7 linked regions of the Homo sapiens genome follow. The protein of the gene in region 7 purifies or fractionates together with the protein of the main gene of each other region. This does not show direct contact. Each region holds a gene or a part of one and is shown on either strand. Other genes may lie near its edges.

Region 1 (4,492 bases), on a different chromosome or scaffold from region 7:
ATGGAGTTTGCATTCAAATGAATTAAGGGGATTCATAGACAGGTGAAACATACCCCCCTGTCCTCAGGATGACATTATAGCTTAATTGAGAAGACAAAAGCTTCAATAGCCAGATAAGATTTAAGTCAGTATGTGAAAATGGCCTTCACAGAAATATAAACAGGAGTTCCACTGTGCTGTGTGTGAAAGGGAGAAGCTAGAAGCAATGAATATAGGCTGTGCTTTCTAGGTGTTTAACTCTGGAAGAGTGGCTGGTGGGAAGTGATCTGGACACTTGAGAGGTCAACTGGAAAATGATGAAAATTAACCTGGTAATTGGTGTCTATTTCTGGTCCCAGAAGAGATGCAAAAATTTTATGCAGAATATGCATGAAATTGTTCATCTCACCCTATAGTCACATTATTCTTTGAGATTCCAATTAAGTGGTAGCTAGAATCATTAGATGCTTTCTGTTCTGAATATTAACCTTATAAATATTAACTTTGTCCTCATAATAACTATCTGAGGGTAGGTACCCTTATCATCATACCCATTTTACTGATGAGGAAACTAAGATATCAAAAGAGTAAGTAACTTGCCCAAAGTGATTTGGCTGCCAAGTCATGGATTCAAGCCCAAACCGGCTGGCTCCAGAGCTTACACGCTCACCACTGTGCTATATTGTTTCTTAAGCCTTCAATTAAAAAGTCAATCGGAATTTTCAGAGATACATACTAAGTGTGCAGGAGTGAGGTGACCTGAGGTCTGGGATTGGTTTAAAATAATTCAGCAAGTCTAAGGAAGGAAGGAAGAGCCAATTATGCTAAAATCTTGATAAATGTTTACTCTGGGTGATGTTTATAATGTTTATAGGGGTCATTATAGCATTCCCTAATTTCCGTAATAAAAAATAGGAACTGTTTCTAGTGAACTTGGAGATTTTGAAATACTTATTATTGTACTGTTAATATCAAAAGACTTTTCAGTTATCTGGGTAATTTAGATCAAAGCAACAAATTTCACTGTTATTAATGTAATGTGGCCATGAAATGCAGTGCCCTTTTCTGTATATTAAAACCTATTTTCCACCTAATCCCCAAGTGTAACAGCTAAATACCTTAAAAAAAATCAAGAAGGGTGTATCCTGCCAAACATATTTGATAGAATAGCAAAACGTTTGAGTTAGAAGAGACCACAAAGATAACTTCTTCCAAAATTCCCATTTAACCGCTATGGCAGTTAAAGCTAGGAGAATTTAAGTGATCAGCCCACGATTGAAATGGGAATATGAAACGATGATCTATAGTCAGTCACGTAGCCAAGTACTGGAAGAGCAGGAGTTAAAAACCTGGGTTTCCTGGACTCCAGGCCTTTGTATCTCTCATCAGAAGGAGGTTGTGCCAGTAAAGGGCTAAGCAGCCCATATGGAAATGTGGACACCAGGCTTCACTTGTGATTCCTGCTACATCAGGCAGTTGCCAAGTTAGAAGCCTGGGATGTAAGATGAAGAAAGGTGAGTCCCCTTCGGCTTGGAACTGGAAGAGGTCAAATGGCCCTTTCCCCTCCCAAACGGAGCCATGCAAGCCCCATTTATCTTGTGTGTTTTATCCACATTCCTTGTTCACAGGTTTTAGCCGCATCAACCACAAAGGGCATAATTGGAAAAATCATAATTGTTATACTTGAAGATACTTCTCAGAAGTGCATTTGGGGCTCTGTGTCAATAAACCCACCCCATGAAGGGCCAGAAGCCAGGGCCAGGCATTTCTTGGGAGGGAGGGATGGAAATGGTCTTGGTGAGGGTGCGTAGAGTCACCACACCACTGTTGAATTAATCACTGACCTCATCTCTCCATCCTGAGGATTCTTGGAGGACATTGCGAGAGCTAAAATCTCCTCATTCCCAAGGCTGGTGTGCACCTTTTCCATTGCCTTTGTTGGTGTACACTTCTTAAGGTCTGGGAGGCCTCAAACCCCAATGTTTCAGGACCCCAGCAGGTGAGGTAAATGAATAAAGCTGGCCAGTGTAAGACCGGGGCAAACTGAGAAGAACAAACTTCATCCTTATTCAAAGGTTTTATAACACTGGGCTGTCTGCACAAAAAGCCTGGGCAGGTCAGCAGACAATTGACTTCCTCTGCTATAGAGGATAGACCCTGGTGAGGAAAGCAGGAGGCCTGGGTACCATCACTGGCTCCCTATGACTTGAGTACAGCCTTCCCTTGGCAGAGCCTCAAGCGCTTTCATCTGTTAAGAAGTGGGTCTGTGAGTCTCCAAGGTGCCACCACCTCTGACAGTCTAATTCTGTGATCTGTGATAGAATACATATCTCAAAACAACTGGAGCCACTGTCGGTCTGTCCAACATATATTTGCAAAATGCGTGCTGTGCCTGTTTGATCTAACTGACTTTTTGGAACTTGGTGTCCTTGAGATCTTTGGATGGGTTTGTGCATTAACCTTAAGTGCTTTGATCCCTGTAATATAATAAAATGGCCTACACTTAACCATCATTCTGGTACCACTCTCTGTGTCAGAGGTTGTTGCTCTTTTATTTGCCAGTTTTCTTTCTAAAAGCAGTCATGAGCAGACAAGCTTAGAAAGGGTATTTTCTTCGTGTTGTTTCAGGGAAAATAGAGAAAGTCAAACCTCCTCCATCCCCCACCACTGAAGGCCCCAGCTTGCAGCCTGACTTAGCCCCTGAAGAGGCTGCCGGAACCCAGCGGCCCAAGAATCTGATGCAGACCCTCATGGAAGACTATGAGACACACAAATCTAAAAGGCGCGAGAGAATGGATGATAGTAGTGTAAGTTTTTCCTCCTTTCCTCTTTCACTTCTCTGAGCGCGGCCATCGGTGTGGCGTGTGGCATTCCAGTTCAGGCACAAATGTGTATGTCGTTGTCTGGTCAGCATTAGGGTTCCAGTATCAGTTTTCATATATGTGGTTTCACATGCCTGGAACTGGGTTTGGGTTTTTGCCTGTTTCAAAAAAAAATTGTTGATCTTGCAGGGAGCTGGTCCTTTGCTGCCAAGTATAGCTGGAGTCGACCAGCAAGGCTAGTGTGTAAGATGTTTGGTGCATAGAAAGACAGCATGCAAGGGCCACGCAGGGAGAAGGTTGCAAGTGCCCTGAAATCATCCCTATGCACCTGGGAGCTGATTTCTACCATTGCCCAGTAGAGATTTTATTTCTCTAGAAAAGGATGAAGATGCTGTTCCTTCAAAGCCGACACTCTAGGCAATCCCTAACAATGTTACAGTGCTTAAAAGACTGAGTGTGTTTGGGGCTGTTAACAAGCCCATGTGCATAGCTTGAAAGCAAAGAGCCAGTGAAAATGACAGTTGAAAACCACATGGCTACTCTGCTACACCCAAGCCCTCGGAACTTTGCACATAACGTTCAAATTAACTGTGAAGGAAGTCACATGCTCTGTGGTTTCTTTCTCCGGTTAGAGACATAGGAACTGTTGCTCTACACAGTCCCAGGAGCCTGGAGATCAGCCTCAGGGTTCATGCCAACCTCCTGTGGGTCTTCTGGCACCAGTCTCTTAGCACATATTGAAGTCATCACCTCCTCCCCTGACTGCACTTAAGTCACAGATAGCTTGGGTTGGTTGAGGATCCTACTGAGTTTACCTGAGACAGTCCTGGCTTATGCCTGTTGTGGTGTTGTGGTTATTAATATCCCCTTCAACTCTTTTGTTGTTGTTGTTGTTGTTGTTGTTGAGACAGGGTCTGTCTCTGTCACCCAGGCTGGAATGCATTGATGTAATCATGGCTCATTGCAGCCTCGACCTCCTGGGTTCAGGCAATCCTCCCGCCTCAGCCTCCTGAATAGCTGGGACCACACGCGTATGCCACCATACCTGGCTTATTTTTTAACTTTTTTGTAGAAAGGAGGTCTCATTATGTTGCTCAGACTGTTCTTCAACTCCTGAGCTCAAGGGATACTCCCACCCCAGCCTCCTAAAGTGCTGGGATTACAGACATGAGCCACTGCACCCAGCCTGCCTTTCACTCTTGAAAGTGTCCCAGTTTGGGTGATAAACCATCTGGTCACCTTAAACTTGAATGCTATGAAGTTCACAGTAAGAATTCCCTGCTGTTTTATTGCCTTTTATATCCTAGCTGGCTAAGTTAAAGGATTTCTGGAGTTGAAGCCCAGATGCTGAAAGTTGCTTTCAAAATATATGGCGGTAAAGAAAGGAAGAAAGCAAATGGATATCTGGCAGCCTGGCTTCTCACTTGGCATCTCCCAGGCTTTCCCTTTTGTTTACACCTGAACTGCGTGGAGCACTGGCTCAGCTGCTGTATTAGGCTGCAGCTATTCTACTGGGCTCTTCACTGTATTAGACAGTGGGATGATGCCCGGCCCTGGGTAGCTGCTGCAGACATTTCCACTGCTGAACCTCACTGTAGGGGAGCCAGCAGCTCCTTTCGTGAGCCTGCAGGATTTTTCCCTGGCTACTCAGTCACTTTCACCAGCCCTTCTTTGAAGCCCCACTTCAAAGG
Region 2 (4,492 bases), on a different chromosome or scaffold from region 7:
AGCATCATTTTTTAAGAACTTATTTTCCTTACTTAGAATTTTTTTCTAATTTTTAAAATTTTTATTTTTTAGCAAAGCAAAGGCTTTCACTAAACCAAATTCACGTCTGCAATAACAACTTTCTCTGGATGTAAATATGTTGTTTCCACTGATGAAGAGAGATGCTGACTTACACTTAGATAACAAAAGATTTTAACCCTATACTGTTATTTACTCAGGGTGGAAGAACCTGTCCACTTTAATTTTTTTGTTGGAACAGAGTGCAGATGGAATTTAAAGCCTAAAGCATTGTGTATTAATAGATAAAGGTTTTAATTCCCCAAGGCTAGGAACCAGACCCTTAGCTTCCAGCTCTAGCCACTGGGATGCTTTCCATGTGACAGGCACTCAAGAAATGCCTGTTGGTGACAACGGCAATAAGGCAGAAAGAAATTAATTCTGAAATTGTTCTTCCTCTGGCTGCGCAACCTCAGAGCTGGCAGTTTTAACTTCAACTAGAACAGGCATGTGAAAAAGCTGCAGAAACAGACTTCAAAAACACAGATACTTACTTCCCAGAGTTGACTCCTTTCATGTGATCTGTGTAAATATAGATATCAGGTATGAACTTGTTGAGGATGCTCCTTGCAGAATCCACAATCCGGTTCGCCATCTGAGGTGACACACGTACAGAGTACCTGCAGCCTGGAGTTAAGGATGTCATTCTGCTTGAATTCCAGGACAGAGAAAAATCAGTTATAAAGCTGGCAAGTATTTGTGGAACTGTAGTAACAAACTGGGACTTCCAAATCTATTGTTTTCCAACTGAATTTACTGAATTAGTACCATAATTAAATTTTTTTCATTATTATAAAAGGTCATGGCAAAAACACCCAAACAATAGAGACAGTGGAAAGTATAAAGCTGGAGGTCCTCAACCCCACCCCCTGACTTCCTACCCACACGCTTCCCCTAGAAATGGTTCAAGTCAATTTTGGAAGGTGTAAAGACACCTGCCTCTCTGCGGGTCATGATCCAGGCTCCCTCTGAAGCACAACACCTAAGAACACTTTCTATTCTCTGTCCATTCCCACTGCTGTAGCCAATGAGTCTCTCTCTTAAGAACCTAAGCCCAGAACAGACACCACACAGGACCTGGGCGATCCCAATCTGACTCCTGGTATGCTGATGGGAGAAGCAGAAAAAGTTCAGTGAAAGAACATGGTTGCTGCTATTTATAAATATATAAAAAGGTTTTTCTCATTTACAGGGCCTATTTTCTACTATTTAAGAATTAATTACTCCACTTGTGGATAACACAGCCTCCTCACACCTGCTACCTTATGGTTAAAATATTGATAATTAGCACTCCTACAATAGGGCACCCCAGAAAAGAAAGGAGGAAGATATTAGTAACTCAAGTGAAAAGATTGGTGCTTGAGGAAATGGAAATTATTGCCTAAAACTAGACTTTATAACAGAAGCTGGCATTCCCCAACCACACATGTCAAAGAAAAAGTAAGTATGTATTGAGCACTTCAATGTGCAATGTATGGTCAAGAGATGGCTATATATTTGGAACTAAAAAAATGGAGAAATAACATGTGACCTTCCCACTACCCTGATACAAACCCCACGTGACAAGTCCAACAGGTAGAACGAGGTATATAATCTGCCCAATCCAGCCCAATGTTCAAGAACTGCTGACAATAACATATTTAATTTTCATCTGAACTGCAGAAACAAAGTGCTCAGAGACGATACATGACCTGATCTGGTATCTAGCTCCCTTTTTTGACCCATCCTGAACTTCATACTAAAAGACCAATCTTCCTCATGCTGGTGACAGTCTCTCGGTGGCTCCTGGTCCTCCCATATCTTGTTGTTAGAGCCCCCAGCCTGCTCAGTTGTGTCCATCTTCAGCTCTGCACCATCAACTCCTTCCACCCATCCAAACTGACCAAATTCCTCAACCTGAGCTGCTTTGCCCCATTCTCCCAGCCCGAGGTCCCAATCTCTCTCCTGAAACCCTCCAGCCGGCACCCAAGTGTTAGCTCCACTTGAACTTACCATACATCTCTCTTCACATATGCACATTTTGTTCTTGCTCTTCAATGAGACCACACACTCTATAAGGGCAAGGGCTTTACCTCTGTAATCCCTCCCAACTCTCCAATACACCACTTTTGTACTCAGAAATGCTCAATAAATATTTAACTTGACTCAAAGGACAAACCTGAAATGAGGAAAGAGCAAAGAGGGATTTTTCAATACACACACAGCCCAGTTACATCACCATCTCTTCAGTCCAGAATGTACTTTTGACCACAGACAGCTTAGACAAACAGTCCTGAATCTCATACCCTTTGGACCAAGCAGGTGCTGTCCTTCTGAGGTCTGAGGCTGCCCACTGTCCCCAGGAAAGCACAAGAGATGTCACCATCCTAGCACATAATCCCACAGAGCTCACGGCTCCCAAAGTTCTTTCACATCTATTATCACCTTACTTTATGCTCACAGTAACCCTGTGTTGAGGGCCATGGCTCCGAGTTCTAGGACTTACATTAAAGACAACTAAGACAAAAAAACTAAGACACTTGCTCAAAATTAAACAGATCTGACTCCCAAAAAGCATCTTCCTCCTCTCACCCATCCCAATACAAAAACACGAAGGTTAACAAACAGTACGAATTCAGGGCCTACAGAATCCTATACTAGAACTCAGGCAATGAAATGAAGAAGGCAAAGGAACTTTAAAGCCAGTTGCTTAGAACCATCTGGCTTGGCATGGATGTCCTACTAAGGAATGGCTAACAGCCCCCAAGTTCTAGAATCAGATTATCTCCGTTCAAGTCCAAGCTCCAGCAAGCTGCATCACTCCAGGTTAATTGTGGTAACTTCTCTGTGCTGTCATTTCCTAATCAGTAAAAGAAGGATAATCATAACACTTTCCTCACAGAGTTTGGAGGCACAAATGAAATAAAATGCATGTAAAGCTCTTAATGCCTAGTGTGTAGTAGGAGCCCAACAAATGTCAGCTATTGCTTTTCTTTATTACTTATCCAAGATTCAAATCCCAAGCAGAGGTTCTTATTCTTTCAAGAATCAGAGAACTCTCTGAGAATCTGATGAAAGCTATGGACCCTCTCCTGAGAAACATATATACTCACAATCTTGCAGAAAATTTTTCAGGTTTATGAACCTCCTAAAGCCCATTTATGAAAACCATATTAAGAACCAATACCAATGTACAAGTCCATAGCTACAGTCCATATGGGACTCCCACTCTTCCCCTTCCCCAATGTTCCATGTCAGAGAAAGCTAAGAGGGGTGTGTGTGTGTATGTTACAGTAGGTGGAGAGAGAGCTTGATTCTCAAAGTACCTTTCCTACAGTCAAGGAAAAGAAACTAGATTATCCCACGAATTCCAACTTATCCCCCTTTACTGCCAGCTTTTTCACTTAATTCTCATGTACCAAATCATGAGCTCCTAGGACAGCACTGCAAAACTAAAACAGAATGTTCCTTTCTCTTACGCCCCACATAAGGCAGGGGTGAGAAAGAGTGGGTGGCATTAAGTAAAAGGTAACTACTGTGTAGTCACAGCTGCTGGCAGGAACCAACACCAGCTCCCTCTGGGCCCTGGCTGGTAGGTCATCTTGTAGAACGCAAGAGGGAAAAGATGCACTTTGGAAGTAATTCAGTTAAAACCACAAATGCACACAAGAGAGTGGGCCTCTTTCTCCCAGTCTGAGCCCTCCCATGGGAAATACAACCTCCAAGCTTAGTCCAGTAGTCAACCAGCCTTGCAAGGAAAAAAACCACAAAACCAACTCAAGCTTTTTCCAAAGGCAGCTCTTTTTTCCCAGGCTCCAAAACTGGAGAAGAGGGCGATCTCCATTCAAACCAACATTCCTTTGAGGTGTTTGTGAAATGGGCAGCTCTGCAGAGCAGTGGCTGAAATGTTTGGTTAACAGACAGGGATCTGAGAAAGGGCACTGTGTCAACTCTCCTGGGGAGCCAGGAGGAAGCCTCAACCAGTCAGAGATATATTGGGGATGATTTCCATGTCCTATCCCCTGCCTCCAGGGAGGGAGGAACTTGGGACCTCACAAGTCTCTTCCTGGCTCAGATTCTACACAGGGAAGGTTCCAAGAACATTAGAGGGAGAAGCCAGGGAGGAACATAGTTACACCCAAGGTGCCCGGCACTACAGCTCTTTTAACTTTTATGTTCTCCCCTGGAAAGCCCTTCCCCATTTCCCAGCATCATCATCAAAGGACACGACCATCTGCACACCCAGAGAGAACAAGGGGGACCCCACTGTGATGAAACCCATGTTGTTATGACAAGATTGTGTCAAAACAGAGCACACTGCCAGAAATCACATTTCCAGACTACAGAGACTGGATTCCAAACAAAGTTCACGGCCGCCAATACAGCATTAAGGAAACACATCTCAAATAAGGAGGAAAAAAAACAACTACCCCCCAGACAAACCCAAAATAGTACT
Region 3 (4,492 bases), on a different chromosome or scaffold from region 7:
GCACCTGCTACCATGCCTGGCTAATTTTTTGTATTTTTAGTAGAGACGGAGTTTCACTATGTTGGTCAAGCTGTTCTCGAACTCCTGACCTCGTGATCTACCCACCTTGGCCTTCCAAAGTACAGGGATTACATGCATGAGCCACTGCACCCGGCCAGGGCTGTTTTAAACTGATGACATGCCTTTGTATATGTTGGGAGGAGAGCTGTAGGGGAGCACTTGAGTAGATATGTTACTATTAACTATGTTGCAACATAAATAAAGCAAAAATTGAACAGATATTCAAGGAAAAATAGACAAATCCATAATCACAGTGGGAGATTTAACATATGCCTCTCAGTAACAGAACAGACAAAACAAAACAAAACAAAACAAAACAACAACAACAACAAAAAAAAACAGTATGAATATATATGGATTAACACAACTGGCCCAATGGACACATAGAGAACATTTTCTTTTTTCTTTTTTTTTGGGGGGGGGGTTCGGAGTCTTGCTCTGTTGCCTAGCCTGGAGTGCAGTGGCACCATCTTGGCTCACTGCAACCTCCACCTCCTGTGTTCAAGTGACTCTCCTGCCTCAGCCTCCTGAGTAGCTGGGACTACAGGTGCACACCACCATGCCCGGCTAATTTTTGTATCAATACAGAACATTTTCAAACACAGAGGAAATATTTATAAAAACTGACTATATACTGGACCATAAAGTAAACCTCTACAGGTTTTAAAGGAATGAAACAATACAGTGCAGTGTCTTGGAATCCAAAATAATCATGTTAGGGACTGGGTGTGGCAACTCATGCCTGTAATCCCAACACTTTGGGGGGCGAAGACGGGCGGATCTCCTGAGGTGAAGAGAGCGCCTGGCCATCTAAAAATATAAAAATTAGCCAGGTGTGGTGATGCACACCTGAAATCCCAGCTATCAGGAGGCTAAGGCAGAAAAATCGCTTGAATCCAGGAGGTGGAGGTTGCAGTGAGCTGAGATCGTGCCGCTGCACTCCAGCCTAGGTACAGAGCAAGACTCCATCTCAAAAACAAAAACAAAAACAAAACAAAACAAAACAAAACAAAAAACCCCAAAAAACAAACAAGCAAAAAACCAAAGTAATCACATTAGGAATGAATAACAAAAAGGTAATCAAAAACCTCCGTTATGTTCAGAAATTAATAATAGATGGGTCAAACAAGAAATCATAATGCAAATCAGAAAATGTTTTGCATGAAACAACAAAAATACTGCCTATCAAAATCTGTAAGATACAGCTACAGAAGTACTTAGAGGGAAACATATAGCCTTAAATGCATATATTAGAAAAGAGAACAGAAAACAGAGCTATGCAGCAATCTCAAAAAGTTAGAAAAATAACAAAATAAACCCAAAGAAAACAGAATGAAGAACACACTGATCTGTCAGGACAGAAAATGAAGTAGAAACAAACAAAATGTATATAGTATCATATTAGCTCATTGTATAAGGCTCGCCAAACCTTGGTATTATCAGACTTTTTCAATCTAGATAATTGCAGCGAAAGAAAAGGAAACCATCCTATTCTGCCCAGTCTCACTTATGATGCAAAAATCTTCAATACTTAAAAACTCTTAATGAAGCTTTAGTAAGCCAAATGCAACAATATATGAAAATGATAACATTTTATGCTTATGTTAAGTTTATACCACTTATGTGAAGTTACAATGATTGATTTTCTAAAGTTAAGCTGACTTTACATTATTGGTATAAAACCAACATGGTCATGAAGCAGTATCCTTTTTGTATGTAGTTCACCATTTAAACAAATAAACAAACAACAAAACCCTCCAACTAAGAAAATAATTTCCTTAGATTAGCAACAAATATCTATCAGAGACCTACAGCAAATGTTTTATTTACTGATGACATACTGAAAGTTTTCCCAATGAAACGGAATATGACAATAATGTTGCCATCATCAGTTCTGTAAACTTGAGGTCCACATAGAAGAAAAAAATAGTTTAAAGTACCCCATTTTAAAAAGCATTTTCTCTAAGATTTAGTAAATGCAATCAAGCTAGTATTCTTCATAGTAAAATGAAAAATAATTTCAATTCGTATGGATAAAGACATTCGATGAGCTGAATCAATCAAGTGGGGAACAAAGGGAAAAGTATGTAATATAGGTGCGAGAAAAAATCAGCAGAAAGCAGGTGAAAGGTGTAAGAGTTGTAGCAGCATTCCTAATTTCCAAGCAAACTACAAAAAGTCCCACTAAACAGATAAAGTGGCTTGAACAAGACAGAGTTAAGAATAAAATCAGATTTGGGATTCATGCTTTAAGTGAAGAAAAAAAGGCAGCACAAAAATGTTAAAATAATCCTGGAAAACAAGATACCTGTATTACCTTGGATAAGTTACCCAACTCTCCAGAACTAAGTCTCCCATTTATATAGTGAGGAAGTTGAACTTAATGGTATCTCCAAAATTCTGACTCAAAGCACTCCAGTATTTATGTTAAATAATCACTGTTTTTTATGTTTTATGTGTATATTAAATCATTCTGAGGCTGCTGAGTTACACATTATATTTCACTGTGAAACTCTGACATTATCTTAAAATGACTAAATATATCCTTCTGTGCCAATTCGTCCGGGAGGGTGTGAAACACAGTGGTTAAAAGCCTAGGTTCTGAGGTTTCACTGTCTAGTTTTGAACACAGCCCTACCATTTATTAACTATGTGGTCTCATGCAAGTCACATAAATTCTTCTTGCCTTCATTTCCTTAACTATAAAATAAGGATTATAAAAGCATCTATCTCATAGAATTATTGTAAGAATTAAAGATCATTCTTAAAACATAGTTGTCATGATGCCTGGCACATAGAAAGTGCTTAATAAACTTATCTTTATGCAGGTTTCCAGTTAGACAAAGAGGAAATAGGACCAAAAATTATAAAGCTAATGGAGAGGATAAATAATTCAAAATGAAAAACAAAGGCACCTCGCTATTGTTTAATTTCATTACATTCTATAGCAGAAAATCTAAGATATACTAGTCTACAATAGCAGAAAAATTAGTAAACCTTCAGGCCTAGTTCGATAATTAATAGTATGATCTTAAGGAGCACTTTATCCTTTTTGAGTTTCAGATTTCTTAATCAGTACTATGGGCAAGTTTGTGAGAACTGTAAAAGATAAATGTATGTAAAAAGCACTTGGAAACAAGCACGTCTTTTAAAAATTATCAGGCCGCGCACGGTGGCTCACGCCTGTAATCCCAGCACTTCAGGAGGCTGAGGTTGGCGGATCACCTGAGGTCACGGGTTCCAGACCAGCCTGACCAACACGGTGAAACCCCGTCTCTACTAAAAATATAAAAATTAGCTGGGCATGGTGGCATGCGCCTTTAGTCCCAGCTACTCGGGAGGCTGAAGCAGGAGAATTGCCTGAACCCAGGAGATGGAGACTGCAGTGAGCCGAGAGTGCACCACGGCACTCCAGCCTGGGCAACAGAGCAAGACTCAATCTCAAAAAAAAAAAAAATCTATATATCTATATATCTATATATTTGTATCTATCTCTGATATTCTTCTTTCTGGGCAGATGAGTTTCAAATAATTATAAGTTTGTGAAACCATTTTGGTTGTGAAAAGGTTTTTTTTTTCCCTGCAAGTAAGCTCACTAGCAAGAATTTAATAATAACAACAGGCCAAACAATCCATTATTAGACTAATGAGTCATCTACAAGCAGAACTGGTTTAATCTATAGCACAGCAATAAGGAGCTAATTCTTCATTGTGTTTTTCCTTAAATCTATTCTGTTTTAGTCTCAGCACCTAGATACCAAAACTGATGCTTAAAAATGAGCCGGAATGCTTCACTGAATGCACTTATCCCAGTCTTCTACCTTACCTGTTTCATGGCCTGCTTCTTAGCAGCTTCCCTCTGAAGGCTTTCACTCACAGAGGTCTGTAAAACAGAAATATATTGTCACTTTTTAAACAAATTTAAAATTTCTTTTCCAGTACGAGCGTCCCCTATCTAAAATACATGGGACCAGAAGTGTTTTGTATTTCAGATTTTTAAAATACTTACTGGTTCAGCACCCCAAATCTGAAGATCTGATATCTGATGCTCCAATGAGCATTTCATTTGAGCTTCACATTAGTGCTCAAAAAAGTTTTAGATTTTAGAACATTTAGGATTTTTGATTTTCAGATTTGGGATGCTCAACCTGTTTTCTGGTTGGCAATGGTGCCTTACTTATAGTTAAAAGTAAAAAGATAATAATACAAATTAAACTAACATTTTCAGGGTTTTTTCCCTAAACTTCAGGAAATAAATGAATTTGCATTGTAAATCCTCAGAATAGATTATAAGGTATCAGAGAAAATAGAATGGTACAGGAAAAGATGAGTAAACATGAATTTTTAGTCCTAAATTCACTACTGTCATTCAACCTTTACAGATTTCAATTTGCTTCATGTGAACATGTGAGAGAGAGAGAGAGAGAGAGAG
Region 4 (3,500 bases), on a different chromosome or scaffold from region 7:
AATTAATAAAATGGTTTGGATTTTTTTTCTCAAGTTCTAAAGTTTTTTAAATATTTAAGTCCTCTTTTCTTGCAAAATTAGTATAATACTGCAAACATCATTGACTTTTTATTTTATCTTATTTTTTTTTTGAAACAGAGTCTTGCTTTGCGCCCAGGCTGGAGTGTAGTGGTACGATCTCGGCTCAGTGCAATCTCTGCCTCCTGGGTTCAAGCAATTCTCCTGCCTCAGCCTCCCAAGTAGCTGGGATTATAGGTGCACACCATCACACCCGGCTAATTTTTGTATTTTTAGTAGAGTTGGAGTTTCACCATGTTGGCCAGGCTGGTCTCGAACTCCTGAACTCAAGTGATCTGCCCACCTCAGCCTCCTAAAGTACTGGGATTGCCAGCGTGAGCCACTGTGCCCAGCCCATAATTGATTTTTTTTTTGATGAATCAGTATCTCATGGTCATTCTGAGAACCAGCTGACAATGTTAAGCATCAAAAGATGTAGAAAGTAAGCTAATGTGATCTGACCACAGAACTTTCACATGGAAAATGTTTCCTCTTCTCAAATTCTTATGTATTCTTGTTCTTTCCAAAAATTAGCATGCAAAAGTTTCTACTGAAATCCATTAGCTTAAGATTTTGCTGAATTTCAACAAGCAAAGCTTATAAGTCAATCAAAACTTTACAAGTTAAAATGTCACTATAGGTTTTTGGCATAAGTAAAATTAAGCCTTTTGCTATAAACTAGTGTAAAAAGGCAGTATTTATCACATCGAAATGGTATTACAGTACAGAAAAGAGAAGTTGATTTAATAAAAACATAGAATTATGAAATGTAACTTACTTCCTCAGGGAATCAATAATATCCATAGAAAAGTGCTCATCCCAGCCACAGTCCAATAAAAATCTAAACTCATCAACTTGGAGAAGATAGCAAAGGGCAGATTCTTCTTGGACCCCAGAAAGGGTAGTTAATTTGATAATAGACGTCATTTTTTTTGGTCCAGAAACAGCAAGCTAGAAGAGTCTTTCAAATGAAATGAAAACATAATTAAACATAAAAGCACAGTCTGGCATATATAATAAACAAATTGATTAAAATTATTTCAAATCTTTAAGTGCATAGAAATTCCATTAACACGAAAAGCAGTTTAAAGGCCCATTTCCATCATTGCCAAGTTTACTTTTTTTTTTTAAGTGAAAGCAAGTTTATTAAGTCACTGCCAAGTTTAAAAGCACAAAGATAATCTTAGACACAATGAGCCCTTTAGTGGCTCCCTAGTGGGGTAGTGAATGTTGCAATCAAATAGACCCATATATGAATCTACTTCTATGTGATTTGAAGCAAGTTAATTAAACTTTCCTCACCTATGTATCTCAGTCTATAAAACATTAGTATTAGTATACATGTAAAAACAATGTTGAAGTATTTCAAATAATGTATAAATTACCTATAACAGATACTACTGCATCCAAGTTCCTCAATAAATAAATGTTTAGGAATTAATGAACTCATCCTTCAAGGTGAATCTCTTCCTCTTTTATCTTGCTTTGTGATGGCACTGATTTCACTGTATTACAATGATTAGTTTACATGTCTTTCTCTCCCATTAATTAGACCAGTGGTCCTTAAATAGATCCCCTTGAGAATCTGATAAAAACCTATGGACCCTCCCCCTCCCCCACCAACTCTCAACACACTCAAACAAAAAACAAGAGTACATATACACGTAGAAATTCACAAACTTTTCAGGGAGTTTAACATTAAGAACCCTTGCATTGGAATGTGAGCAACTGAAAAACATAGGTGGCATATGTTTGCAACTCCCTAAATAGAACCTGATGCACGCTTCAACATATATCTGATGAAATGCAAATTGGGATGCCTACTACATATATTTCAGGAAAATATAACATGAACACATCTACAGGCCAGGCACGGTGGCTCACGCCTGTGATCCCAGCACTTTGGGAAGCCGAGGCAGGAAGACTGCTAGAGTTCAGGAGTTTGAGACCAGCCTAGGCAATGTAGTGAGACCCTGTCTCTACAAAAAAAAAATATAAGAAAACTGGCTGGTGGCATGTACCTGTAGTCCTAGCTACTCAGAAGGCCAAGATGAGAGAATTGCTTGAGCCCAGGAGTCCGAGGTTACTGTGAGCTATGAGTGCGCCACTAGACTGGGCACAGAGTGAGACCCTAGAGTGTACCCTAGACTGGGCAACAAAGTGAGACTTTGTATCTAAAAAATAAATAAAATAAAATATATACATTTTTTAAAAATGGGATTTAGAACCTGGAACTGTGTGCTATTAAGCAGAAGTTATGAAAATATTCATTAGCAAAGTTCAACTCCACAGCAACATTTCAGATTTTAGCTCCCTAAAATAAATGAGCTTTTCCTGGCTAACTATGCAAGTAGGAGAGAAGGCCACCGAGTTACCTAATAATTTCTTACCACTACTCAAGGCCATCAACAAACTAAGGTAAACTGAATATCCACCTTTCATAAGAGGCTGACAGGGGCTGCTAAACCCACCACATCTCCCAGCCTTGTTTATCTGAGTGACAGCCAAAATCACAAGACTGCTAGGTTATCAATTATCAACGATGTGTACGTCTCCCAGTAAGACCTAATCCCCTACCTCTTCTCCCTCTCAAATCCTTTCAGGATGCTCTCTGGAACTGTGATCATACTCACCTGTAACTGCAACTGCTTCTCTGAAAATTCTCTTCACCTGCTTGTCTTCCCAGGTACCTGGCTGTTCCCTCATCATACTCTTCCTCTTACGGCCTTCTCAAGGTTTTTTGTTGTTGTTGTTTTAACTTCTTGTACCCCCTGTACTTGAAAAGCAGGAGGTATGTGTTCCTTGCTCCTCACTGCAGCTTCTAAACCATGTCTTCTCTTTCCTCTTTCAAATAGTCTAGTCCCATTAAAGCTCTTGCCACCCAGCAGTTCACTATTAGTCTTCCACATTTCCTCTTCACTATGGCATCTATTCACCTGGCCTCATTCACTGAGGACTTTTACATGACCCGTTGTTCCTCTCAGTAACTTCAATACTGACCTGTTGGTTCCTTGACTTCCTCAACTCCAATAATCATTTCACTTCAGCCACCCACCACTACGATTACACCCTAGACCTTATCACTACCAGTAACTGTTCTACTTTCAAAATTTCACTTCAAGCATCTCATTCTCTAACACCTTACTTACTCTAGTATTCCCATTGCAAAAATCCTCTGGGGTCAGTGGTATCTCTCTAATTCGCTGACTACTTTTTCCCTATCCATGACCCCCTCCTGTTTTTACTCAGGTCCTCACCTTCAATTCATGATCTGTTAACATTATTTGCAAACACTCAAATGTCTTGCTCCTCTAGGTACTTCTCTCTACTAGGCTGGCAAAACCCCAGTCCTGATTAACTCCAATCATGCAGGGCCGGCGGGGGGATGGGATATGGAGGAGAATTACAGCTGTGCTATTTGCTTTTTTTTGAGACGGAGTCTC
Region 5 (4,492 bases), on a different chromosome or scaffold from region 7:
GTTCTTCAAAGGTTCAAATACTTTCTAAAAAACTGGCAGGCACTTGAGACAATTTAGGAAAAGGCTGCCAAACATGACTACATGCTGCTTAAAAATTGCTTTGGAAAAAAGCACCAAGAAAAATGTGAAAAAATGAAAGTCAAACCAGGTGAAATCATCTGCAACGTGATAGTCAACATCTAAAAATAAGTATATGTGTTAAGTCAATAAAAAAGCAAGAGCCAAGTCCCTGCAACCTGAGAGAATACACCAACCGGCATCAACACCAGCACAGATACTCACATCGGCAATCAAGGAAAGGCAAATTCAAATGAGATACAATTTCTCAGACAGGAAACACATTACAAAAACTGGCAACATAACCAGGACAGTTTTAGGGGGTGGAGAGAAGAGTACACTTTGGAAATGTAAATTGTTACAAACTTACTTTAGAGCAAATTTAGTCATCCTTCAAAAATTTAAATGTATACTTATTTCCTAAGAATTCGTTTGGCTCACACAATTGTGAAAAGATAGATGTACACCAGTGTTCATTACAACAATTATGCAACAAATCTATTATGTGCCAGACATTATTCGGAACTCTGGGAATACATAAGTGAACAAAGCAGATTCCTGATCTCAGGACCTGGGGTCAGGGGTCAGGAGAAGCCAAAAAACACGCTAGAGAAATACTTTATGCAGTGTGGGGGGAGTGCTACCAGCAGAGCAGGGGATGGAGATGTGAAATCTTGTGTGCAGCGTTGGGCTCAGTGAGGGAGTTCCCCACACAGGTATCTGAGGGAAGACTGTTCCAGGCAGAGGGTATCACTAGCAAAAGCAGCGAGCAAGGGGCAAAGAAACAGTAAATTTGGTCAAAGAAGAAAAGGGGCCAGAGTAAAACAAAAAGTAAGCCAAATATTCATCAGCAGGAAACTGGACAAGTTAGAGTATATTCATATGGTGGAATGCTGTGCATCCAGGAAGAATTAGGATACAGTATATATATGAGGATGCTTCCAAATATTTTTAAATAGAAAAATCAAATGGCAGAATAGTATTACTATGTGATTTCATTCTGCAAAACCAAAAACATAAGCTATGTTCTAGAAGGATATATACTTAACAGTTGTTCTTTCTGTGGGTAATTACAGAAATTCTTTTTTTTTTTTCTTGAGACGGAGTCTTGCTCTGTCACCCAGGCTGGACTGCAAACAACCTCTGCCTCCTGGGTTGAAGCGATTCTTTTGCTTCAGCCTCCTGAGTGGCTGGGACTACAGATGCCCGCCACCACGCCCGGCTAACTTTTGTAATTTTTTAGAGACGGAGTTTTGCCATGTTGGCCAGGCTGGTCTCGACCTCCTGACCTCTGGTGATGTGCCTGCCTCAGCCTTCCAAAGTGCAGGGATTACAGGCGTGAGCCACCACACTCGGCCTAGAAACTCTTTTATTTTAAAAAATATATGTATATTATATTTATATATATATAATATATAAAAATGTATATATAATATGTATATAAATATAATGTATAAATATAATATTTATATATATTTATAAATATATTTATATATTATATTTATAATATATATTATATATATAATATATATAATAAATATATGTACAATTATATATATTATATATAATATATATAATATATATTATAGATATATTAAATATATATATTTTTATATATATTATATATTTATTATATATATTATATATAAATAATATAAATATAATATGTATTATATATAAATAATATAAATATAATATATATAAACAATATAAATATATTACATATAAATAATATAATATATATAATATATTATATAAATAATATAAATATAATATATATTACATATGTAATATAAATAATATAGATATAATATATATGTAATATATATTATATATATTTATTAATTATATATTATATATATAAAATATATATATATATTTTTTTAGAGACAGCGTATTGCTATGTTGCTGAGGTTGGCCTCCAACTTCTGGGCTCAAGTGATCCTCCTGCCTGAACCCCCTGCTGTATCCCCCTACCCTGCCCCAGCAACTGTGATTACACGCACAGATCGGTATGTTCATTTAGGGATTTGTATTTTTATGCACGTACCGGTATGTTCAGTTAGGGATTTGTATTTTTAGAGTTTAGCATATATAAACTATTTGGACTTTCTTAAGGAGCATATAATCAGAACAAAGTAAGCAATTTAAAAATATATAGCAGAGAATCAATAAAGAGGCTTTACAGACATACACGGAAGAGGCACTAAAACTGGGACACCACAGGAGCTGCTGGCGGGTGAGAGGCGCTTCGCTGGCTGACAACTGCTATGTTTCCAAACAGAACAGAGAACCAGTCTACTTAGATACATCCTTGTATGGGTCATTTGCAGTAAAGAATTTAGGTAAAATAACAAACTTCATGGAGAGATCACATTTCTATATTTGAGTCATTTAACTCCCATGGAAGGTACTTGTGTGTAACCAACTGCTACTCATCGAGGGCATTTTAAATATAAGGAGAATTTAAAGAATAGAAATTTGATACCTTCATGAAGGCAAAAATTAAAATTTGTAACCATCAGGTTCTCCTTGAAAACCACCACTAAAATGCAGGAAAAATTCTCCCGCCCTGCCTCCCGACACCTGAGCAGACTGAGCGTGGGAACACACTCCTTTCTTCATCCCCATGCCCCCGAGTCGCACCCAGAGGGAGGGCAGGACGCCAGCCTCACTCACCCTTTTCTTCAGCCGCTCCCGTTCCTTCAGGGTGAGAGTGTCAGCTTTTGCAATGACAGGCACAATATTCACCTTGTTGTGTATTGCCTTCATAAACGCCACATCTAAGGGCTTAAGTCTAAAATTAATTTTAGAATTGTCACTTATTTAAAAAAAATACATACAAAACTCTTCTCTCTCAAATTATCTTAATTCTTATATTAAAATACACAGTTTGGGTAAAACTTACAAACCCATGTAGTAAAGCATTTCTCCACGATAAACAATTACTTACCCATGTCCAAAAGGTGAAATAAAGTAAAAGCAACAATGCACCCTATTATCAATGATGTGCCGCCTGTTCAAGCCGCTCTCGTCATGCAGGTACCTCTCAAATTGCTCATCAATATAGGAGATAATTGTCTTAAAACTGAGAGAAACAGAAACATTAACAATAATCATAGGGTATAAAACAGGGGGTCCCTGACTTCAAAGGGAAAACAAGTGCCTCCGCCCAAATATACATAATTTAATAATTCATTTTCAAGATGAGAACAGAAGACTGACTTTTAGATTTGGCAAATGGAAGTTTTTGGAAACTATGCCAAGCATAACTGCCCCTAAGTGCTGAGAGTCAAAAGCCTGAATGGAATAGGTTATGATGCACCTGAGAGAGGGCCAGTGTAGACAGGGCTGCCAATTCGTTCTTTTTTTTTTTGAGACTGAGTCTTGCACTGTTGCCCAGGCTGGAGTGCAGTGGCGTGATCTCGGCTCACTGCAACCTCTGCTTCCAGGGTTCAAGCGATTCTCCTGCCTCAGCCTCCCAAGTAGCTGGGATTATAGGCACACGCCACCACGCCCGGCTAATTTTTGTATTTTTAGTAGAGACAGGGTTTCACCATGTTGGCCAGGCTGGTCTCGAACTCCTGACCTTGTGATCAGCCCACCTCAGCCTCCCAAAGTGCTGGGATTACAGGCATGAGCCATCGCACCCAGCCAGGGCTGCCAATTCTTTTCAGGAACGTGACTGTGAAAAGGGGCAGAGGAACAGGGTGGTAGAGAACATGGGTCAAGAACAGGTTTATCTGAGCTGGGAAACAGCATTTAACTGAGCTGGGAAACAGTACAGCACTTTCACATGTAAGAAGGGAGAAATTCCTAAATGTAGGAGAAAGATAACAGAACCTTCCCCTTTTCATCTAGTGGTGGAAACCTGATGCTTTATGTTGACAGGAATAGAACCAGGAGGGAGTTTGTACAACAAAAGTGGCATTCTTTGCACGGTACAGGTGACAGACTGCTCTATCTTCTACTTCTTCATTTCCTTATTTGTGAAAATGATGCCAATGAGCAGTCATTTACAGACACTACGACTCAACCCACTCTCTAACAGGTTTCACTTCCTTCCACATAGAAAGGATGTACTACAGTATCTCGGTCACCAACCACGGCTCAAATCCAGGTGTTTCATTTATACTAGCAGTCTATGGATGACTGGCTTTGCGATCTCAAATTACAGTAGAGTACCAGAAAAAAATTACTCTCTATAAAATTCCTTATTTAAAAAGTCAACATTTAACACGCTTTAAATTGTCTAGGTGTTTTATTATATACAGCAATCCCAAACTTAATAATCACTCATTAACACTATCTATAAATTTATGAAGTATATTAAGTAAACAAATGCAGATCCCTGGGCATGGGGGAGCATACCAATCTCTGCAGTTGATAGCGTCACCATAGCCAGGGGTATCTACCACTGTCAGGCGTAGCTTGA
Region 6 (4,492 bases), on a different chromosome or scaffold from region 7:
AAAAAAAAATAGGAAGAGGTTGTTTAAAATGGCTGAATCATGTAAACATGATTTAAAGCTGTCTACATAAAGAAACAACACAACTAGCTGGAAAGGGGAAAACCTAGTCTTTCGAGCAGCAGGTTATGTACACAGTATTAAAAAAGGAATATAGATTGGGGTTGTTTTCTTTTTTTAAAAAAACCAGTTTGAGTAGCTTATCTGGCCTTGTGTCAAAAACAAGCCAAAAGTTTTGGAACTGGCTGGAATGTGCTGAGGGGCAACTTGGGAAAACGGCAGGGCTCACTCATTCCTGGGAGTATCTGATTGACACAGAGGACGCTGTTGAACTGGGGCCTTATCTGAAAAGAGACAAAAGGATCATCCGAGTGGCAACTGATGGGCCCTTCTAGTTCTCAGACACTCTACATAGGTATAGAAAGCTTTGGTCAGTAAAAACAAATTAGTGAACTGAATGAAATTTTAAATATAGAATCCAGTGTTTTCTACAGCCTCCCTTCCCCCATGTGTTTAATTACTGAGTCATCATTTCATGCCCACTTCTTTCTATAAAGACATTCACCAAGAAACATTACAAGAACCCATGTGGGACATATTTCTGAGTTTAGTTCTGAGGTAACTTTCATTTTTCTTTTTTGTAAATGAATTTGTAGGTATTTGGTCACCAAATGAAAAGTATTTCCCAACATGTTCAATGAATGATTTCCTTGACTGCCTCATGAGAGCTAAATTCAGTTTTCCTGTTATTAACATTTACACTTTCTCCTTCCTTTACATGGCCTGTGCTCACATTCAATTTTCACTTCCAAACCACCACAACTTCTATTAGAAACAGAGGAACATACATCTTAACAGAAATGTAATATGTAACATGAACTAGGGGTTTTCATTTTTCACGTGAAATTGACAAAACGTATTTAAGAAAATAACCCACCCCCTATTTAATCTGGCCATGTTTTCTAAATATGGATTTCTCTGTTTAAGATTTTGAATTTTCTTAATAGATGCCATAGTTTTCTTAATAGATGGGTTGGAGCATGTTGGCTACAAATCACTTCACCAGTCTCATAGGCGAAGAACTTCGGGTCTTCCTACTTCAAATAATTCAGTTTCACCACATCCTAATAAGTATTGTGAACTTATTCGATATAGTCACAATTTTTAAGATTATTTGGGGCAAACACAGCATGAGAGTTGAAGTGCAATCAAGTGTTCTGATGTGGTGTTCTGATTACTGTCAAACCCCGTGCCATTCTATCTGTATAGCTCCTTGTTCACTTACCTACAGTCAAATACCCTGGCACCCGCTCCTGTGTGTGCCTCAGAAATGCAATGCAGAACATTTGGCCAAACTTTTCTTTTGAAAACCAAATATCATCTTCAGTTCACCATATTTTCTACTGAGATGTGTGTGGGTGTTTTTCCTTTGAAAAGTTAAAGCATTAATCAAGGCCAGTTGGAAATATTTCATGATTGAAATGAAAGTAGAATGGCTCAAGGAAAAAAAATTAGCATTCAGAAGAATAGAAAACAGGATAAATTGATTCCAGCAGTGTTTTTCAAGCCTTTTTGATGACGTCCCACAGAAAAAAAGACAATTTACCTGACAATGCAATACTTACTACCTACAATGCCCTCTGATGGCTTCTATCCATTTCATTTTTTAAAAAATGCTGACTGATACATTTAATTAATTTTGAGACACTCTAAGCTGATCTCACTATTCAGTGGACTGTGAGTCATGGCTTGAAATACACTGGATATGAGGTTACAATTTTGAGATCATCAGACCTGAGATATCTTGGAACACTGACTGCTTTTTCTGTTGCTTTACGATCATTACTTTTCAATCATATTTACCTCTTCTTTTTTGAAGGTAGGCTTGTCTTCTTGGAGCTTTTCTCTTTTAGCTTGCACTTTAGTTCCCTTCTCTTCTCCCTTTTTATTTTCAAGAATGGTAAGGTCACACAAGTAAAAGAAGCCCTTTCTAGTTTACAAGAGTGACAGGGTGCTCGGATCGCCTTGCAAGTGCTGCGTGGGATGGCTTCTCTTCTGCCGTCTCAGCGCTCACAGCACAGTGGTTCTAAACAGCAAGGTGGGATATTTTCTTCCCACCCCAACATCTTCTCGTGTGCCTGCCATTGCGCTCACTGAAATCTAGCATGATGTGGCACTCCTCGTGTGTTTACAAACCTCGTGTGTGGTTTGGTGCACTTTGCTCATGGTCTCAATTTTAGCTGTGTTCATGAGCCTCTTGTACAGAAGCAGGAGTTAAAGATACCTTCAGTGCAATGCAGGCTTAGTGACAGAGAATTTGCTCTGGAAAGGTGAATGTGAAAGCATCTCTTTTTTTCTTTTTTTAGGAGTGGTGGTGGTGGTGTGGTGGTGATTAGGTACAGTGCTTTCAATGCAGTCTTGCAGACAGAAAAAAAATCTTTCTCAAAGCTTACAAACATTTCCCCCCTACTATTTCCACCCTTCCTCAGGCCACATGAATTTGTGTCACCCAGATAATAAAGAAGCAGCATGTATGCTCTTAATTACCAGTCAAATATAAATCAATACTACCCTAAATTAATGGCTTTCTGCAAGTCTACATTAAGCTGAGGTCTACATGTTGGCAAATCAGGGTTTTGACTTTTTTTTTTAAGGAAAGTTTCCAACCAGTTCCTTTCCCCCTCTTTATTACCAGTTAATTTCCAGGGGTTTGTTTTTGCCTTTTTGTTGTTGTTGTTGTTTTTGTTGTTGAGATGGAGTCTCTCCCTGTTGCCCAGTGGAGTGCAGTGGCACAATCTCAGCTCATTGCAACCTCTGCCTCCCAGGTTCAAGTGATTCTCCTGCCTCAGCCTCCTGAGTAGCTGGGATTACAGACATGTGCCGGTACACCCAGCTAATTTTGTATTTTTAGTAGAGATGGGGTTTCACCATGTTGGCCAGGATGGTCTCGATCTCCTGACCTTGTGATCCACCCACCTCAGCCTCCCAAAGTGCTGGGATTACAGGTGTGAGCCACTGTACCCAGCCTGTTTTTGCCTTCTTAAGATGAAATGTCTGACCATTATTCTTCATGTCTCTTTCCCACCCCAGCTTTTATCATTTTTTTAATTCAACGTCAAACCCATGAGTGAGGTAAGGAGTTATGGGCCTCTTGCCTCATGCAGACCTATGGATAGAGGAAAGATAATTAAAAGAACGAGTTTAGATGCAAGCACAGAATCAGAAGCCAACACACCACCACCACATTTATCATCTTTGGATTAATTCTTTTTTTGGGTATTCATAACAATCAAGCACAGAGCAATTAATTTCTCTCTGTCTTCTGGACAGCCAAATTTACTGGCTGTCCCAGTAAATTTGGTTGATTGAATATTCAGCCATCAATCAATTGCTGCATGCTTGTGTATCGCTATGGCCTGAAAAAATGAACAGCTTGCCAAATGATCAAGCATGTGAGCTATATGCATGTGGCCTCAGTCCCAAATCAGATGTGCATTACATTTCTCACAAGTCACAGGCATCACACATTTGGTGCAAAATGTTTACTGTACCTGTTTCTTTAGGACAGCTGTCTGAAGTTTATCTTCTTGTGCTTTCTTTTCATTTACCCATTTCCCTTCTATTTTCTGTTCTACCTTTTCCCCTTTTATCTTTGTCTCTTGCATGGCATGTTTTTTCTCTTCTAGCTGCTTGTTACGTTTCTGCTCTTCTACCTTAGCCTTCTCTTCCTCCTCTGCCCTGGCCCTTTGCCTCTCCTCTGCTGCCCTTTTCTCTTCCTCTTTTATCCTCTGCCTCTCCTCTGCTGCCCTTTTCTCTTCCTCCTTTATCCTCTGCCTCTCCTCTGCTGCCCTTTTCTCTTCCTCCTTTATCCTCTGCCTCTCCTCTGCTGCCCTTTTCTCTTCCTCCCTCATCCTTTCCCTCTCTTCTGCCTCTCTCCTTTCTCTTTCTTGGGCAGCTGCTTTTTCTTCTGCTTCAATTCTTGCTCGTTCATCTGCTATCTTTTTGTCTTGCTCGGCTTTAATTCTTTCTCTTTCTTCTGCTTCCAACCTTGCCCTCTCTGCCTCAGCTCTTTCCTTGTCTTCCTCTTCCATCTTTTCATGATGGGAAATCTCATCTGAACCTTGTTCCCTCTCCTCCTCTTGTTTAGGCTCTTCTGAACTGATCTGCCCATTTTTTAATGACATTACCACTGTTTCCTCCTGGCTTTCAGTTGTTTTCTCTTCCACCATCACCTCTACCTGATTTTCTCCAATGCTCCCTCGCTTTGGCTTCTCCTCTTCCTCCTCCTCCTTTTCCTTGTCTTCTTTCTTGTTTTCTTCAGCATCCCTCCAATCATTCTTCTGGTAGGACTTGGTGACTGTTTCTGTTTCCTCTATCTCGTATCTTTCTTGGCGACTTTCACTTTTTTCTTCCTTCTCGGTAGTTTCATTTTCTGCTGTGTCATTTTGCATTCTTCTGCTTGGGAGCGACAGACTTGCATCTGTTATTGTTGGGT
Region 7 (4,492 bases):
AAAAAAAAAAGAAAAGAAAACAAAAAACAAACTAACTAAAAAAGATCACAAAATTAAGGTTTAAATTCTGCCACAATTAAGAAAAACATGACTATTAAAATCCTACATTAAGTTCTTAGTGATCATATTATAGAATGTGGCCATGCAGTCTACTAAGTTCTATGTATTAAGTTGTTATTAGATAACCAAATTAATATTAGATCTTTATTTACATTTATAAGACAGTGAGAAGAACCCATGAGGTTACTGCACGTCCAGACACTTTCATATCATTTCCTCAAATATTCCATGAAGTTAGCAACATTATCTCTATTTTGTATAAGAAAAAATAAAAACGCATTAAATCAAGTTTAAAACAAAACTTTTCTGGCTCTCTAGTTACCCTACCTTCAAGCTAGTCACCTTCACATTCCTGTAATACTCCGTATAGCAGCTTTCAGCTAACAAAAATAGGAGTCACATGTGGTAGTTTTTAAAACAGACATGTTTCATTATTGATTCATCTCTCAGAAAAGCCAGTTCAGGTAGTATGTACAGTTAAACCCCTAGGACTTCTTACTGAATTAGTCTTCAAATTCAACATTTCATCCTTCCCTTGATGGATATAAAAAGACGTTAATGCATTTTTAAAATTTAAAAATTGTTTAAAGCAGACAACATATATCTGACTATATGAATATTTTGTCTCTACTTACAATTAGAAATGCCATAAACATCTACAAACCTATTTGATATCAAATAAACAAAGTAGAACCTAGCCAAGCAAACATCTGATGATTTGAAATTCCTCGTACATACTTATGCTGTAAGTCTGGTTGCTCCGAGTGGCATGAATGCTGCTCTAATCTGCTCCAACATCTAAACATGACATTCTAACAACCAATCTGAAAAACTACCTTTAGTGGTTGATTCTGTCTGCTTATTCCTTCCTCTACAACCTAGAGAATATGTTCTATTGTTCATAATACTCTTTCCTCAAAGATGTGTAATTTGTAATAATTTAAAATATAAATTTAGACAGATTTACTTGACAATTTGGTGCATGTTCTAAATGGCACTTTGAATTTCATGAGAGCCTTAGTCAAGTCATTTTCCAGAGAGTTATCTTTAATGTCTATGCTAAATAAATAACATTTACACACAGGACAAAATCATCATAGGTTTTTATCCAAGTAAAAAAGGTAAAGAGGTGCATCTACTATTTCAAATTCCAAAATCGAGCATCTACATATAAGAAATCACCTTGGTTAATTTTTTTCAAGATTATCCCTCTTTAAATAATTGCCAAATCTATATTGGACAGAACAGACACAAACGTGTTTGTGCAAATTATCTTTAAAAACATAGTATGGCTTAAAAGTTATCAATTATTTCCACATCATAATATATGAACATATTTTAGTCATTATTCTGCCTTAACCATTGTTCTTAGTTCGAGTGAACACAAGGTACACCTACTGGCACTATAAATGAAATTACTCTGCCCCAAATAAAAATAGAGTTTTAGGATGCTATTGAAGGAAATTAATTTCTAGGAATTTTGGCAAGGACAATAAACATTAATATAATTCCAGACATAAGATTTGCAGAGTTTATCTCTACCCTTTATATGCTAGAAATTTATTTATTTTAGAAACCTTATCTGACTTGGAGGAAATAGGCACAACTTGCTCCATTCTTTCTATCACACAAAAATATGTCATTTTCAAAAATTAACTTCTTATAAATCCAGTAAACAATTTCTTTAGAAAGGTAAAGTCTAGCCGGGCGTGGTGGCTCATGCCTGTAATCCCAGCACTTTGGGAGGCTGAGGCGGGCGGATCACAACGTCAGGAGATCGAGACCATCCTGGCTAACACGGTGAAACCGTCTCTACTAAAAATACAAAAAATTAGCTGGGCGTGGTGGCGGGCACCTGTAGTCCCAGCTACTCGGGAGGCTGAGGCAGGAAAATGGCATGAACCCAGGAAGTGGAGCTTGCAGTGAGATTGCGCCACTGCACTCCAGCCTGGACGACAGAGTCAGAAAGGTAAAGTCTAACCTCTGCTTTAAGAGATCACAATAAAATTAAAGTTTAAAAATTGCCATCATTAAGAAAAACAAAGAAGTAATTTGTACAAATAAAAATCTAAGTTGCTTGTACAGTGAAAAAAATGAAACATTTTCAATAGAGCAAATCTATTGCTTAACAATCATCCTGAGCTACAAACTAACATGTACATCATCCTGCAAGTCATACCAATTACTCACTTTATTTACATTAATGACAAGTATAACATTTACCAATTACAAATCTACAGGTTTACTTGTTGGTAGTAATTGAGTTTTTCCGATAGGATGTTTTGGAGAACCTTTGTACCAGGCCCTTCCTCTTTCTGATGGTCTCCTAAGGACCCTGTTATTTATCCCAGAAGAAATGCCCATGTTGTTATTTACAACTGGTTTTACTATATCATGATTAGTCAGATCATCCAAGGGAACCTTAACTTGGCCATCAGATAAGATCTTCTGTTTATAAACTGTAGTAGACCTAAGAGAAGCATTCACTGAATCTGGGTGCTTCCTCATCTTTAAGAAAGATTTCGAGGGTAACTCCATGCTTGACTTTGAAATTGCACCAATATTTGACTCTTCACATGACATGGACTTCTGTTCTTTAGGACCTGATTTGATACATGAAACAGAGGAATCTTTTGATGCACTTTCTATACAAGAGGAAAGAGCACCGTCACAGCTCACTGATTTGACCAAAGGAGAAGCTGTATCACCAAGACTCGCCAACTTATGCCCTGTAGGTTGTCTGCTATACTCCAACAAAGAATTAATTCTTCTGACGGACTGACGAACAGGAGTACGCTGAAACTTAAGAGGTGACTTGACTTTTATTCTATTTGGTTCATTTAAAGAAAGCTTGTTAAACCACTGTATGTGATCAGAAACCTTTCTATGTTCTGTCATTTGTGAACTTTCAGAAACTGTTTTCTCACATGTTTCCAATGACTGCTGTTTAGCAATTCTCATAGGCCTAGGTTTTGACAAGTTTGTTACAACACATGTACTCTGCTGTGAGAAAGAGGATCTAGCCTCGTCCTTGCTATGTGCTGCACACTTCGGTAAGTTACCTTCCATCATATTCTCATTCTCTTTTAATTTATTATTTAGTTTATCCTTTGGGGACTGCTGTTTCTTTATTTCTTCATCACTGGAGAATTCTTGCTTGCTTAAATAATCTTTTGGCATATTTGAATGAATGTCTTTTTCATGTTCCATCTTCATCTGAGTTGAATAACATTTTATAGTTGTTTCTCTATTAAATGTTTGAGTTTGAAGGGGTGAAAAGTCCCTCTCTGAAAAACATTTTTCACCTTTACCAGTGTGGTGTTCATATTTCTCCTTTGATTCTACTATAGTCAAATCATTAGTTTCAAATAGATTTTCCTCTGGGCTATCTTCTAAATAAGATGGTTCAGTTAATTTTACTTTCCCCACATTAGTTACTGATGACTGCCTCTGATTCATCAATGCGTGAAGATTACTTCCAGATTCAGAAAACGCTTTTTGAACTTTCACCAAAGTCTCTTTGGTCATGTTATTTTCATCCCCGCTAAGAGGGCTACTTGTTATGTTGCTATTATGCTTATTGTTTAAATTGGAAGGGGTGAGTTCACATGAAGTAGCAGGTGACTTTTCTACCATAATATCAGGCTCCAAAGAGTTTTCTACCTCAAGATTTTCCACCATTGAAGAAGCTTCATTTGCATCTACTTCTTGAAAACTTGAATTATTAGGTCCTGTCCAAGACATCCGGTAATTTGTTCCAACTAGTCGCTCTGGAGTTAGTAAGGTTTCCTCAGACTTACTGATCTTTTCTGAACCTAAAATAAAGCAGTTCAGTGCTTAATCCTTTGTATTTAACCTTGTTTTGAAATAATACCCAAGCACATGGCAAATAAGTCACTAAGCATTTAATTCTAATAAAGTATTTGTGTTACAAGAAATAATTTTTAACATAAGAATGTCAAACATTTTCATATTTACATGTATAAGCATTTCCCAATTGTTGATAGAAAAATACATTGCCAATTCTAATATTTTCACTATTCAAACATGAACTTTTAATCTCTAGAACAGTAAATTAATTAATATGTTTTGCCATTAAAAAAGCAACTAAAGCAGGATTTTTAGGTAAAACTCTAACAGTAGTATGTAAATGTACCTTTCTTTGGTAACTTTTCATCAACATCTGGGCTAAAAAGCAAACCTGTTTTTACAGATTCAATTCGATTTTTTAAACTTTGTTGATTTGCAAGTCGCCAACCAACACTTTCATATCTATTGACACCAGAACATCCATTCTGTACAGAAAAAAAAAAGTTTTAGTTAAGAAATAAGCCTAGTTAATTCAAAATATAAAGACAGAATAATTTTTTGTAGTTATCAAAATCTTTAGCTGATTTAAAAAGGGATATATAATTGAGAAACAATTCTTAAC

Evidence for each region.
Region 1: the proteins of ARHGAP11A (region 7) and PALM2AKAP2 purify together in Homo sapiens (affinity purification with mass spectrometry; one large-scale study listed by BioGRID and IntAct). This does not show direct contact.
Region 2: the proteins of ARHGAP11A (region 7) and RCL1 purify together in Homo sapiens (affinity purification with mass spectrometry; one large-scale study listed by BioGRID and IntAct). This does not show direct contact.
Region 3: the proteins of ARHGAP11A (region 7) and NSRP1 purify together in Homo sapiens (affinity purification with mass spectrometry; one large-scale study listed by BioGRID and IntAct). This does not show direct contact.
Region 4: the proteins of ARHGAP11A (region 7) and CPSF2 purify together in Homo sapiens (affinity purification with mass spectrometry, with the first as the bait; one large-scale study listed by BioGRID). This does not show direct contact.
Region 5: the proteins of ARHGAP11A (region 7) and SEPTIN2 purify together in Homo sapiens (affinity purification with mass spectrometry, with the first as the bait; one large-scale study listed by BioGRID). This does not show direct contact.
Region 6: the proteins of ARHGAP11A (region 7) and CALD1 purify together in Homo sapiens (affinity purification with mass spectrometry; one large-scale study listed by BioGRID and IntAct). This does not show direct contact.

What each region holds. Positions count from the first base shown.
Region 1 is NC_000009.12:110,153,712-110,158,203, forward strand, and holds part of PALM2AKAP2 (PALM2-AKAP2 protein isoform 3 (PALM2-AKAP2)), read left to right. Parts: exon of another isoform or gene 1-42; intron 43-1,368; exon of another isoform or gene 1,369-2,492; intron 2,493-2,607; coding exon 2,608-2,786; intron 2,787-4,492. UniProt on the Homo sapiens protein: Binds to regulatory subunit (RII) of protein kinase A. May be involved in establishing polarity in signaling systems or in integrating PKA-RII isoforms with downstream effectors to capture, amplify and focus diffuse, trans-cellular signals carried by cAMP.
Region 2 is NC_000009.12:4,837,417-4,841,908, reverse strand, and holds part of RCL1 (RNA 3'-terminal phosphate cyclase-like protein), read right to left. Parts: intron 2,142-4,492; exon of another isoform or gene 2,050-2,141; intron 708-2,049; exon of another isoform or gene 704-707; coding exon of another isoform or gene 678-703; coding exon 552-677; intron 1-551. UniProt on the Homo sapiens protein: As part of the small subunit (SSU) processome, it plays a role in 40S-ribosomal-subunit biogenesis in the early pre-rRNA processing steps at sites A0, A1 and A2 that are required for proper maturation of the 18S RNA.
Region 3 is NC_000017.11:30,171,993-30,176,484, reverse strand, and holds part of NSRP1 (nuclear speckle splicing regulatory protein 1), read right to left. Parts: intron 3,944-4,492; coding exon 3,887-3,943; intron 1-3,886. UniProt on the Homo sapiens protein: RNA-binding protein that mediates pre-mRNA alternative splicing regulation.
Region 4 is NC_000014.9:92,128,469-92,131,968, reverse strand, and holds part of CPSF2 (cleavage and polyadenylation specificity factor subunit 2), read right to left. Parts: intron 1,019-3,500; 5' UTR 985-1,018; coding exon 836-984; intron 1-835. UniProt on the Homo sapiens protein: Component of the cleavage and polyadenylation specificity factor (CPSF) complex that play a key role in pre-mRNA 3'-end formation, recognizing the AAUAAA signal sequence and interacting with poly(A) polymerase and other factors to bring about cleavage and poly(A) addition.
Region 5 is NC_000002.12:241,336,035-241,340,526, reverse strand, and holds part of SEPTIN2 (septin-2), read right to left. Parts: coding exon 4,429-4,492; intron 3,146-4,428; coding exon 3,011-3,145; intron 2,855-3,010; coding exon 2,737-2,854; intron 1-2,736.
Region 6 is NC_000007.14:134,933,134-134,937,625, reverse strand, and holds part of CALD1 (caldesmon), read right to left. Parts: coding exon 3,549-4,492; intron 1,939-3,548; coding exon 1,861-1,938; intron 1-1,860. UniProt on the Homo sapiens protein: Actin- and myosin-binding protein implicated in the regulation of actomyosin interactions in smooth muscle and nonmuscle cells (could act as a bridge between myosin and actin filaments).
Region 7 is NC_000015.10:32,635,640-32,640,131, reverse strand, and holds the end of ARHGAP11A (rho GTPase-activating protein 11A), read right to left. Parts: intron 4,356-4,492; coding exon 4,217-4,355; coding exon of another isoform or gene 4,194-4,216; exon of another isoform or gene 3,951-4,193; intron 3,876-3,950; coding exon 2,287-3,875; 3' UTR 191-2,286; downstream 1-190. UniProt on the Homo sapiens protein: GTPase activator for the Rho-type GTPases by converting them to an inactive GDP-bound state.